Linked DNA regions of Homo sapiens: regions 2, 3 and 4 are each linked to region 1. The links come from fine-mapping of genetic effects on gene expression. A gene starts in region 1. Each other region holds a variant in brackets. All regions are shown on one strand. Distances are from middle to middle.

What was found.
Region 2: its variant is fine-mapped to the expression of CLYBL in lung (TOPMed, PIP 0.91).
Region 3: its variant is fine-mapped to the expression of CLYBL in monocytes (CEDAR, PIP 0.95).
Region 4: its variant is fine-mapped to the expression of CLYBL in whole blood (TOPMed, PIP 0.95).

What each region holds. Positions count from the first base shown.
Region 1 is chr13:99,605,625-99,608,311 of GRCh38, reverse strand. CLYBL (citramalyl-CoA lyase) reads right to left here and starts at 1,622. Exons shown (of 9, transcript NM_206808.5): 1 at 1,555-1,622. The coding sequence starts at 1,616. LOC105370332 (a long non-coding RNA gene) reads left to right here and starts at 2,463. Exons shown (of 3, transcript XR_931674.3): 1 at 2,463-2,550. RefSeq lists a silencer at 1,282-1,841 and enhancers at 1,563-1,857, 1,780-2,687.
Region 2 is chr13:99,874,339-99,877,025 of GRCh38, reverse strand. The region is part of intron 7 of CLYBL (citramalyl-CoA lyase); the gene reads right to left. The region is part of intron 1 of CLYBL-AS3 (CLYBL antisense RNA 3); the gene reads left to right. Among named protein-coding and RNA genes, the nearest start is that of CLYBL-AS3, 81 kb to the left of the region's middle. The variant A/G (reference allele first, on the strand shown) is at 1,571.
Region 3 is chr13:99,861,530-99,864,216 of GRCh38, reverse strand. CLYBL (citramalyl-CoA lyase) reads right to left here. Exons shown (of 9, transcript NM_206808.5): 4 at 1,125-1,226. The region is part of intron 1 of CLYBL-AS3 (CLYBL antisense RNA 3); the gene reads left to right. Among named protein-coding and RNA genes, the nearest start is that of CLYBL-AS3, 94 kb to the left of the region's middle. The variant T/AAGTCT (reference allele first, on the strand shown) is at 1,310.
Region 4 is chr13:99,904,048-99,906,734 of GRCh38, reverse strand. The region is part of intron 1 of CLYBL-AS3 (CLYBL antisense RNA 3); the gene reads left to right. It also overlaps a transcript of CLYBL not described here. Among named protein-coding and RNA genes, the nearest start is that of CLYBL-AS3, 52 kb to the left of the region's middle. RefSeq lists an enhancer at 1,787-2,287. The variant A/G (reference allele first, on the strand shown) is at 1,333.

The DNA of each region.
Region 1 (2,687 bases):
CACCCGAGGTCAGGAGCTCCAGACCAGCCTGGCCAACATGGTGAAACCTCGTCTCTATTAAAAATACAAAAATTAGCCGGGCATGGTGGCGGACGCCCTGTAATCCCAACTACTCCGGAGGCTGCGGCAGGAGAATCACTTGAATCCGGGAGGCGGAGGTTGCAGTCAGCTGAGATGGCGCCATTGCACTCCAGCCTGGGCGACAAAAGCGAAACTCCATCTCGGAAAAAAAAAAAAAAAAAAAAAAAAAGAAGTTCCAGACCACCAGGCCGGCCATGGTGGCTCACGCCTGTAATCCCAGCACTTTGGGAGGCTGATCCGGGTGGACCCCCTTGAGGTCAGGAGTTCGAGAACAGCCTGGCCAACATGGCGAAACTCTGTCTCTACTAAAAATACAAAAATTAGCCAGGGGTGGTGGTGCACACCTGTAATGCCAGCCACTCAGGAGGCTGAGGCATGAGAATCGCTTGAACCCAGGAGGTGGAGGTTGCAGTAAGCCGAGATTACACCACTGTACTACAGCCTAGGTGACAGACCGAGACTCTGTCTCAAAAAATAAAAATAAATAAATAAAGAAGTTCCAGACCAGGAGCCATACACTTAGTGTTTGAACCAAACTCTCTCATTACTGGTCATAGGGCTTTGAGAATCCTTAACCTTTCTGACCCTGTTTTTTCATCTTTATAAACATGACACCCAACTTCTTCACATGGTGGTCAAGGGAACCAAATGAGACCATGTATGTGCACGTACCTAGGCGATGGGCAAGTGCTAGACCAGCGGTTCTCAAAGTGTGGTCCAAAGACACCTGAGGGGGTCCCTGAGACCCGTTGAGAGGGTCTGCTTGGTCCTCCCTTTCCCAACTAATATCTGCATCTGCATGAGCCCAGAATTTCTTTCAAATATTTCCTTCAAAACAGCTGATATGAGACTCCAGCTGTCCTTTATTAAACCAAAGAAATTTTCAAAAATATAAAAACCATGAGCCAATCTTCTCACTTTTTTTTTGAGAAGTTATGCATTAAAGTGTTATTTGTATTAAAAGTTAATGGGTTTGTTATTAAGTGAATATTTTTTAAATTTCTGGTTTAATTCCTCATGCACAAAAATCAATAGATATAAGCAAAAGCTTTGGGGGGTCCTCAAATTATTTTTAGACGTGTAAACGGGTCCTGAGACCAAACCGTTTGGGAACCGCTGTGTTAAACGAACCGCAGGTGTTCTTCACCAGGCAAGCCGCCTCTCAAAGACTGGCGCGTTCACGTTTGCCATTTGGGGGAGGCAGGCAGTTTTGTTTCCTGGGGCTGAGTCCAGGTAATTCGACCTAAGGTGTGTACCCATTTTCCGGGTGCAACGAGGGCCCTCCCAAAGGGAGGCGCGGGCGGCAGCGACCTTGGACGAGGTCGAGCCAGCGCGTGGGAGGCGCATGGTGCTTCCGTCCGGCTGGGTTCCCGTGAGGGCTTGGGGAGGCCGCGCCCGGCCCGCGGGGCTGCAACAGGAGCCGACCCGCGGCGAGCCGGGCCGGGAAGGCGGGGAACGGGGACCTGCACTCACAGCCTCAGCAGCGCCGCCGCCGCAGCTCCGCGCGCCGCCCTCCGCAGCAGACGTAGCGCCATCTTCCCGACGCGCGCGCCCCGCCCTTTGCCTTTAGCCACGCCCACCCCACATTCCACGCCCCCACGGCGACACCGACCCCCCCCCCGTCCCAGGCCCCGCCTCGCTCTGTCTTCGCCCCGCCCCGTCCCGCCAGCCACACCCCGCCAGCCACGCCCTCCTTCCTCCCAGCACCCGCTCCGCCCCGCGGCGAGTCCCGAGGTCAACTGCCCTCCCGGCCAGGGCTTAGGACCTTCGTCCCCGCTGTCATGGGGGACAGAGCAGAGGATCTGAATGGTTGGGGCCTCTTTGAGGGGCCTCTCTGGTGACCGAATCCAACTCTCTGAGCTTCTGAGTTTTTGAGGCAACTGTTGACAGACTGCGTTTTCCCAGCCAGAAGAGCCAACATTTCTAGGGATTTCTTCGCAGCTTTTGTTGTTAAAATACCGCCTAATACTTTGTGAGCCCCATCATGTGCATATCTTGGTTAGCAATTAATCTAGAGTGGTCAAAGTGCAGGAAGGCTGCATCCTGGAACACACATGCCTGCAATAGGTCAGAGCAGCTGTTGGCACTCTCTGGGCAGGGAAACTGACAGCAGCTCTTTACTCTGCCCCCTGCAGCCGTTCTGCAGCGGTGAGAACGCCGAGGCGTTAAAACAGGCTGGGCCCTGCCCCTGCCTCTTCTTTCACCTTCCCTGATCCAGCCGGCCTCCACCTGCCGACCTTCACCTACCCGGGCCCATGTTACCCCTTAACCATGTCTTTTCCTTGGCACTCGGCATGTTTCTTTTTCAGCTGTGACTCCGTTCCATTCATGCTCTAGACTTAAACCTGAAACCGTTTCTCAGAACCTTCCAGTGGAAGCTGACTTGTGCTCTTGGATGCAAAAAGTGGCCGTTTAAACAAACAAAAGCCTTTTCAGCCAGAGGGGGTTCCAAGATTTGGAAAAGTCCAGGTGACTGGGAACATGGATGCTAAACTTCTGCTGAGCCTAAGAATTATTGTTATATTCGATACCAACAGGGGAGACTGCTCAACCCCTTGGTGCCCTCCCCCAGCTCCCACGCCTGCTCCACCTCAGGCCTCGCCTGT
Region 2 (2,687 bases), 270 kb before region 1:
AGGCTTCCTGGGGCAGGGCTGGGGGATGAGGGCAGGGCAGCACTGAGCAGGGAGGCGTGTGGGGAACGGCACGTGGAGACCCTGGTTTCTCTCTTTCCTCATTGGTTTCTGCTTATCCTCAAGAAAAGACATACATTGGAACTACCCAAATCCAGATTTTGATTGTGACTGAGTGCATTTAAGGCTCTATCTCGTTTTGGTCATGAGTGTGGGTATTCACTGTAATATTCAACTGAAGACACATTTATGATATTCCATATCTTTACTTACAAACTAAGCCCTGAATTCTGCTCGCAGCCCTCTCTCCACCTTGGCTGTGAGTGATACTGGGCAGCTTCTGAAGCCTTGCTGGGTTTCTGTGCATTAAGTCATAAACTGAAGGCATCTGACTAAAAGATTTCTGAGATTTCATCCAGCTAAAATAATGACATATTTAAAATCAAAATTGAGCAAATAAAACCCGGAAAAATATGAACCTGGATAAAGAATATTTTGATTAAAATATCCTTAAGAGTGTGTTATAAATTAAGGACAAAGCAAACAATTTAAAACATTGTCCGATTTAATCTACATTAAAAACACTCTTTTTTTTTTTTTTTTTTTTTGAGACGGAGTCTTGTTCTGTCACCCAGGCTGGATTGCAGTGGTGTGATCTTGGCTCACTGCAACCTTTGCCTCCCAGGTTCAAGTGATTCTCCTGCCTCAGCCTCTCAAGTAGCTGGGATTACAGTCACCCGCTACCACACCCAGCTGATTTTTTGTATTTTTGGTAGAGACGGGGTTTTACTATGTTGGCAAGGCTGGTCTCAAACTCCTGACCTTGTGATCTGCCCACCTCGGCCTCTCAAAGTGCTGGGATTACAGGTGTGAACCACTGCACCCGGCCTATTAAAAACACTCTTATCTTCTAATACCAAACCAGCCATTTGCCACTAAAAAAAAAAAAAAAAAAAAAAGTGAAATAGAATATGATATGATTTCAATACTTTGTAGCAATTCATTACTTTGCTTTAAATGTTTAAAATTTCGCAATTTTGTGTTAATCCATCCAATCTTAAAGTCATCATTGGCAGACTCAGATTTTCTAAGAACTGGACTTTTAAAAATCAAAATTATGGCCGATCTTTCTGAAAATGTTAAATGAGCAGGGAAATAAAGAGAAAAGTGCAATTACTAAGAATCTCTAAAACAGAGTTATGTCCCTTTATCTTTCATTTTCACTACAAACCTCTCAGCTCTGATTTTCGTGTTCCTGCTCATAAATCCAGAGGGAAGGCTGTGGGTCGTGGGCTGGATGGGTGTGGGAGGATACACTGTTGTCTAATAGTGGAATCAACCCTTTCAGTTGACAAAGACAACAACCACGTCTTTAGATGGTTTATTTGATCTGCGTGAAAGAGTGGCAGTGGGATTTCTGGCACTTGAATAAGCGGAAACAATATTTTTGGCTAGAGAAACTTCTCCTGAGTTCTCTCAGGGAGGCTTCTAGAAGGCCATCTGGACCAAGCAATATTTCTTTTGTAAAGCCTTGCATTTGGAAACAGAAATGAAAGGTGTGCGAGCAGCAATC[A/G]GACACCTATGAAAATGATGGGCTTTCAATATTTTGGGAGGAGGGATGTATTACTGTTTGTAAAGTTTCTAGATGAAGAGACTTACATAAGGAAAAAAACTCTTACTTTCCTTTTTCTTTCTTTATTAAGAGATGTTTCCAGTTTATATTCCAGCAGAAGATGTGCTTACTAATGTGAACTTATCAGCTTGCACTGTTTTTCTCTCCTGAGTGAAATGAGAATGTTGGTTGCGTGATGCTTACAGTTGTTAGGCCAGGTAGTGATCTTGTTTCTGACATTTGTAATTGTTAATTGAACCTAGAATTTAAAGATGAATACTTCCCCTTCCTCAGTCTTTAGCCAACTTGTGAAGCTATAACGAAGGAGAAATATTGAAAAAGCCAAACAAAATCCTTCCAAAACCAAACAAAGCACGTACAGCCATGATATGAATCAAAGAGAATGTCTGGAAAACTGAAAATGAAGCAAAGCCATATTTGTAGCCAGATACTGCAAAATATGAATATTCTAGCAGAGTATCTTTAAAATTTTGACACACGTAATATATTGTGCTATTCCTTCGCATTCTTCTGTTAGAGTCTCCATTTGGAAAGAAATAGTAAATTCCTATATTAACATTTCCTGTGATTAGTGACTGTTTTAAAAAAGCAACTGACTGTTTCCTTTAGCTGTCATTTTTGCCTAAGAGTGATGAATATGGAAAGATAAAAACTTTAGCACTAAGCTCATAATATAGATTTGAGGAAATACACGTTATCATACATACTTGAATGTTTATATGTTGTATAAACATGTATGCTATATGTGTTTATATAAAATTATTTCTATTGATATCAATATTAGATGATTATTTGCTTGAGATGTTTTCAAGTATCCAATTTTTACAGTATATAAAATTCTTTATTGATAAAAAAGAACTGTTGAAATCCTATTACTTTAATAAGCATATTAAATTCAGTTCTGAATGAAGAATTTTCAAATATTAATGGAATCACCATTATTATAAAAAAAGACATAAAAATGGAATTAACTTTTAAGAAAATCCTTTATAAATTTAAAACAAATCATGTGGAAATGATTTATCCTGCCTAAAGCATTTTACCAAATAATTTGAAA
Region 3 (2,687 bases), 260 kb before region 1:
TACGTGGGTGGGAAAGAAACGAGGAACCGGTGGGGACACTGTTGATTAATTTCAGACATTGTAAGTGCTTCTAAGTACATTATGGAATAAAATGGCGAAGCAGTGCTTAAAATTAAATCACTGGATGAATCTGGTTGCATCTTAGGGATATGCTTTTGATTATATTCTCAGGATTCTGGGGCTGGCTGGAAGAATGTATGGTTAGTTGTGTAAACAAGCTGCTCACAGGACAAGGTTTGAAGCAGGTCCCCAAACATTTGCACTCGACCCCTTCTGCACATCCCAAGGCCTCAAAGTTGCCGCTCACACATTCTCTCTCCAGTACAGTTCGACTATGTTTTTTCTGTTGTTTTTAGTGATTTCTTTTCTCCTGCCCTCTGTGGGGGCTGGGGTGGGGGAAGGGAATCTAGGAACTCTGAAAGGGGGTGCTAGATTGATGTTCGCAGGTCAGGTGGAATGAGAGGCATATTTTGGAAAATAATATAAATGCCCCCTGATAAACGAGAAAAAACGAGCTAGCTCTGAATTTGTTAAGACCGGTAGTTTAGTGCAACCACACAACGGCTGAAAACACTTGGCTCAGCCAATATTCCCGCATGTATATTAGAAGATATTCTAATGTGGCAAACTGAAAAACTGTACTGCAAATTATTTGTGTGCATGAACTTACAAACAATAATCTTCTCTGCTAGACATTACTGATAATGTTGCTACAGAGAGGGCAGAACATTTCCCACTGAAAAGACATTTGATAGAAAAGAACATTTCAAAGTTAATTCATAAGGGTGACAAATTTTCATGTACATTTAGTCTATAAATGCAATAATTCAAAGCATATAATTACACAGTGATTAGTTAAAATTGTTACTAGGAATATACAAATGCTTCATTTAAATATTTTGGACTGGGAAGCTTTTCCTTCTACCTAACTGATTTCATTGTTTTCTAAGATGCTGGCAACCTGGTTTTTGGACTATTACAGATAACAAATGGTGCTCAACATTTCCTTTGCTTATAAATCTTTCTAGAAACACATTTTAAGAAGATGTTAAAATTGAAAGCAAAAGTTCTCTTTAGGTGATAAATAAAATGCTAACTTATTAACCGTATTATGGCTTCCTTACCTTAAAATTGAGCAAACCCATTGCAGTTTCCACAAAAGGGATTAAATTCATTGGTTGTTCAAGTTTTCGGCCTTTTAAGTGGAATGAAAATTTGTCTGCAAACTAAAATCAGAAGTGTCATAGGTGATTAGTGGGGAAAAAATGTACAATCACGGAAATGTAGACCCAGAAGTAGTATTTAAGTC[T/AAGTCT]TTGACCTGAGGAAGTAATATCCAAGCCTCTTTCGTCCACACAAAAGAATTTTTTTAAAAAAATAAGAAGAAAGTCCAAAGAAAAAGGTAATGAAGTTCCCACCAAACTAAATAGTAAAATCCTAAGCATTACAATTTTTTTCTCCCAAAGGAGCAACTTGAGGCCTAGGAGTTAGAACTGGAAGGAGAGAGTATAAACGCTTTCCCTGAAAACGCATTTACTTAAGACCTCTTGCCCTCGCTTCGTTAAATGCAAATGGTAGGCCCTTAAAACAATGAACTCTTCCTCTACCTGCCATTCTGTTTTTGTTTCGTGCCCAGCACTGACATCAGTGCAACTGTTCAGCAGCCTTCTACGTGGAGTCCATATTATTCATTATAGCACCATTACCCTTTGTTCAGAAGGTTTTTCTTCATAATTTTTTAGCTTACCTAGGAAGACCTTAAAAAGGAAGTTTAATTCTTTGAAGACCAAAGCTCGCCAATTTTTTCCATGAGACCAGTTCACAGCTAGCTCTGTGCTGCCAGTGGGGTAGCCCAAATTCCAAAATCTATCATCTGGAAACATACAAAAGCTCTTGCCCAGATTCCTCCCCCTCTTCAAAAGGGGGAAAAAAACACACTCTAAATTGTAAATCTATTATGTCTATCTAGATCTAATAAGATGTGGGGAGATAGATAGAGAAGAAACACAGGTATGATAAAGGTATTTTTGTAAATAAAGATGAAAACATATATATCCATTTTAAATTTAAGGAATATTCAGCCATTAATAGATATCAAAGGAAAAGGGAATTTTAATCATCTCTCCATTCAGTCTCAGTTGGGTAAATCATATCTAAGAGATTTGCATAAATATAAACCATCAAAGACTTTTCATCTTCAAAGGGGGTTTCAAGACCCTATAAGCTTTGTACTGTAATCATCACAGGTCACCACCCTGCAGGAATAAGGCTGCTATGGCAACATAAAAAAACTAATGCTTAAGGCTTAGCATAATATTCTGACTAATAGAAAGGAAACTCATTTGAAAAGCTGGCAGCCTATTTACCAGAAGCGGGATTAGAGGTGTTATTTCCCCTTCTAGCTGCCCCCTCCTTGCCGGTGCACCACCCCCCTAAAAAATCTAATCACTGGGATCTTTAAAAAGCTTTTGAGCAATTTGCAGTAACTTTACAATTAGGCTAAAATAAATCACAGCTTTCAGTAATGAAGAATTATTCCCAGTTGCTCCCACTGCCCCCCCTTCAAAGGGCATCATCATCACCTCCTTAGTAACTTTTCAAGGGAAGGAATAACTCAACCAAAATAGCAAGAAGGAGCAGGGGGTGACAATTTAAGGGGATAAAATGTATAGTATTTGATGTAGATGAAAATA
Region 4 (2,687 bases), 300 kb before region 1:
TAAGAACTCAAGGCCGGGCACGGTGGCTCACGCCTGTAAGCCCAGCACTTTGGGAGGCTGAGGAGGGTGGATCACCTGAGGTCAGGAGCTCGAGACCAGCCTGGCCAACATGGAGAAACCCCATTTCTACTAAAAATACAAAAATTAGCTGGGTGTGGTGGCAGGCACCTGTAATCCCAGCTACTCAGGAGGCTGAGACAGGAGAATTGCTTGAACCCGGGAGGCGGAGGTGGTATTGAGCCGAGATCGCGCCACTGGGTGACCGAGCAAGACTTTGTCTCAAAAAAGAAAAAAAAAAGAAAACTCAAAAAAGCTCTGGGGGTCCTTCAGTTCCCATTCAAATTCTGATTTTCACTCACACTTATTTTCCTCATATCTGATTATTCTTATGTAAAACAACAATAAAATGAAATCTTAACAGACATTTTTCTGATTTGAAAACTTTTAAATGTCCATTTTAGAAAATAGGGAAACTCCAAAATCCCCTGTAGTGACATTTACTTATTTTATTGTTTATTTTATTTCTTGATGATCACAGTGACAGGTGCTCATTGTAGTCCATTTGGAATGTACAGGAAAGTATAAAAGGAACAAAGTGAAATAACCAAATGGAGGCAAACTTCTCAGCATTTTCCCTTTTGCCATTAAACATGTTGAATCTGGCAGAGTGTCATGGCTCATGCCTGTAATCCTAGCACTTTGGGAGGCTGAGGCAGGTGGATCACTTGAGCCCAGGAGTTCAAGAACAGACTGGGCAACATGGTGAGACCCCGTTTCTACAAAAAATACAAAAATCATCTGGGAGTGGTGGCACAGGCCTGTAGTTCCTGCTACTTGGGTGGGGTCCTGGCTGAGGTGGGAGGATGGCTTGAGCAGGGGAGGTCGAGGCTGCAGTGAGCCGAGATCGTGCAGCTGTACTCCAGTCTGGGCGACAGACAGAGACCCTGTCTCAAAAACAACCACAACCACCACCACAACAACAACAAAACATGTTTGATCTAAAAAAAAAAAAGCAAAAACAACAACCAAAAAACACTTTTTTATGGCTGCATGAAAATTTCCATCTAAGGTACTTTTAGATTTCTTCCCCCTTTTCTTTCTTTTTTTGGTCTCACACCTGGAGCTCGGTTCTTGGCTGACTTGCAAGTTTGCTTTGAAGGATAATGAAGAATAATTGGAACAGAATGGAGGTGGGGGAGGGTGGACAGAATAAGAAAGGGCTCCACTGCCCCCAGCTTTCACTTCCTAGAACAGGGCCAGAAGGGCCCTAGGGCGGCTTCAAGACACCCTTTTGGCCAGTCACTAACACAGTGATGTCATGTCACTCACCAC[A/G]GGCACGTAACAGAAGCTCAGTAAATGTGTGCTGGAGGGCAGATCAATGGACGGATTTGACACAGGTCGCCATGTATGAACTTTACCCTCTTGTTGTAACTCTACAGTAATGGTCATTGCAGCTCAGCATTCCCTTTATTAAAAAAAAAGAAAAACAGGTATGCATCTGTGATCCTAGGTCCTGGCCTTATTAAGATCCTAGAGGAGTGACCAACCAGAGGTCTTTTAGCCCAAGGCAGATAGTTGTGATCAAAGCTTTCTGGATCTCTCCCAGGAGGTCCTCGGCTGGAGAGAATGGCCTAGGACCAGACCCTCCAGTGTGAAGCACCCCCTTTCCCTCTGAGACCTGTGAGCAGGCCAGCCCTGTGGGGAAAGAGGCAAAGGAGGCAGATGTGGGGGAGCAGAAAAGGTGGGGGAGGTGTACTGTTCTGGGGGAGGCAGGGTGGGAAAAGCTGTCTCTGCAAAGATGGCTCAAAGCCCGCTGAGCTCCCAGTTGAGCTTCTTACAAGAGGGAGGCTGCCCTTTCAGGGCCTCTTTTGCTCTCTTGAGACCCCCAGGGAGGGCAGCTACGCTCACCTCTGCCTTGCGGGGCTGTGGGACTCACTTGGCTGAGCTGTTACTTGACGTCTTTGCCTTCATTTTCATAAAAACTGTACAGTTTTGAGCTGACACTGGGAAAAATACTGCTTTTTACTTATATGCTTTAAGTATATATGAGAAAAATTAAATTATGGAATATTAGTTTGAAGCACGACGCTGCCATTTTAGAGGCCACACATTTCTTTTAGGTGACATTTATAGGACAGCCATCCATACACGTGTGGCTGATTTCGAAAATTATAGCATGAGACATTTCAACATGATGGCTATTTCAGCCTCTTCTGCAATCATTCAGGGATGTGAATGTGTATAAAATTAGAAATTAGGTCATGTGTGAGGAATCAATCAACTCTTCCTTATCAAATCAATTCATGAGACCCAAACATAATTATGGAAACTGGTTTGAACTTTGCTTTTTAAAGTTTAGCATAGCCAGGAATTCCCAAATCATGTTACAATGTTGTCCCTTTGACTGCAAATGGAAGGGGCCACATTTCGCCTTTCGAGGTCTGGGAGTTCTGTCTGGCTGTTTCTCTTTTTAATCTGCAAAATGAGGGGTTAGACTAGAGTCTGATTGAATTAGTTTGGGGTGGGGCCCAGATATTAGTATTTACTAAAAGCCCAAGAAATAATTCTAATATCAGCCAAGATCCAGTCCATTGGCTTAGGTGACCTCTAAGTCCTTCTTTGGCAACAAAATGCTGTGCTTTTTATAATTAAAAAGGTGTGGGGTTTTTTTGTTTTTGTTTTTTTTT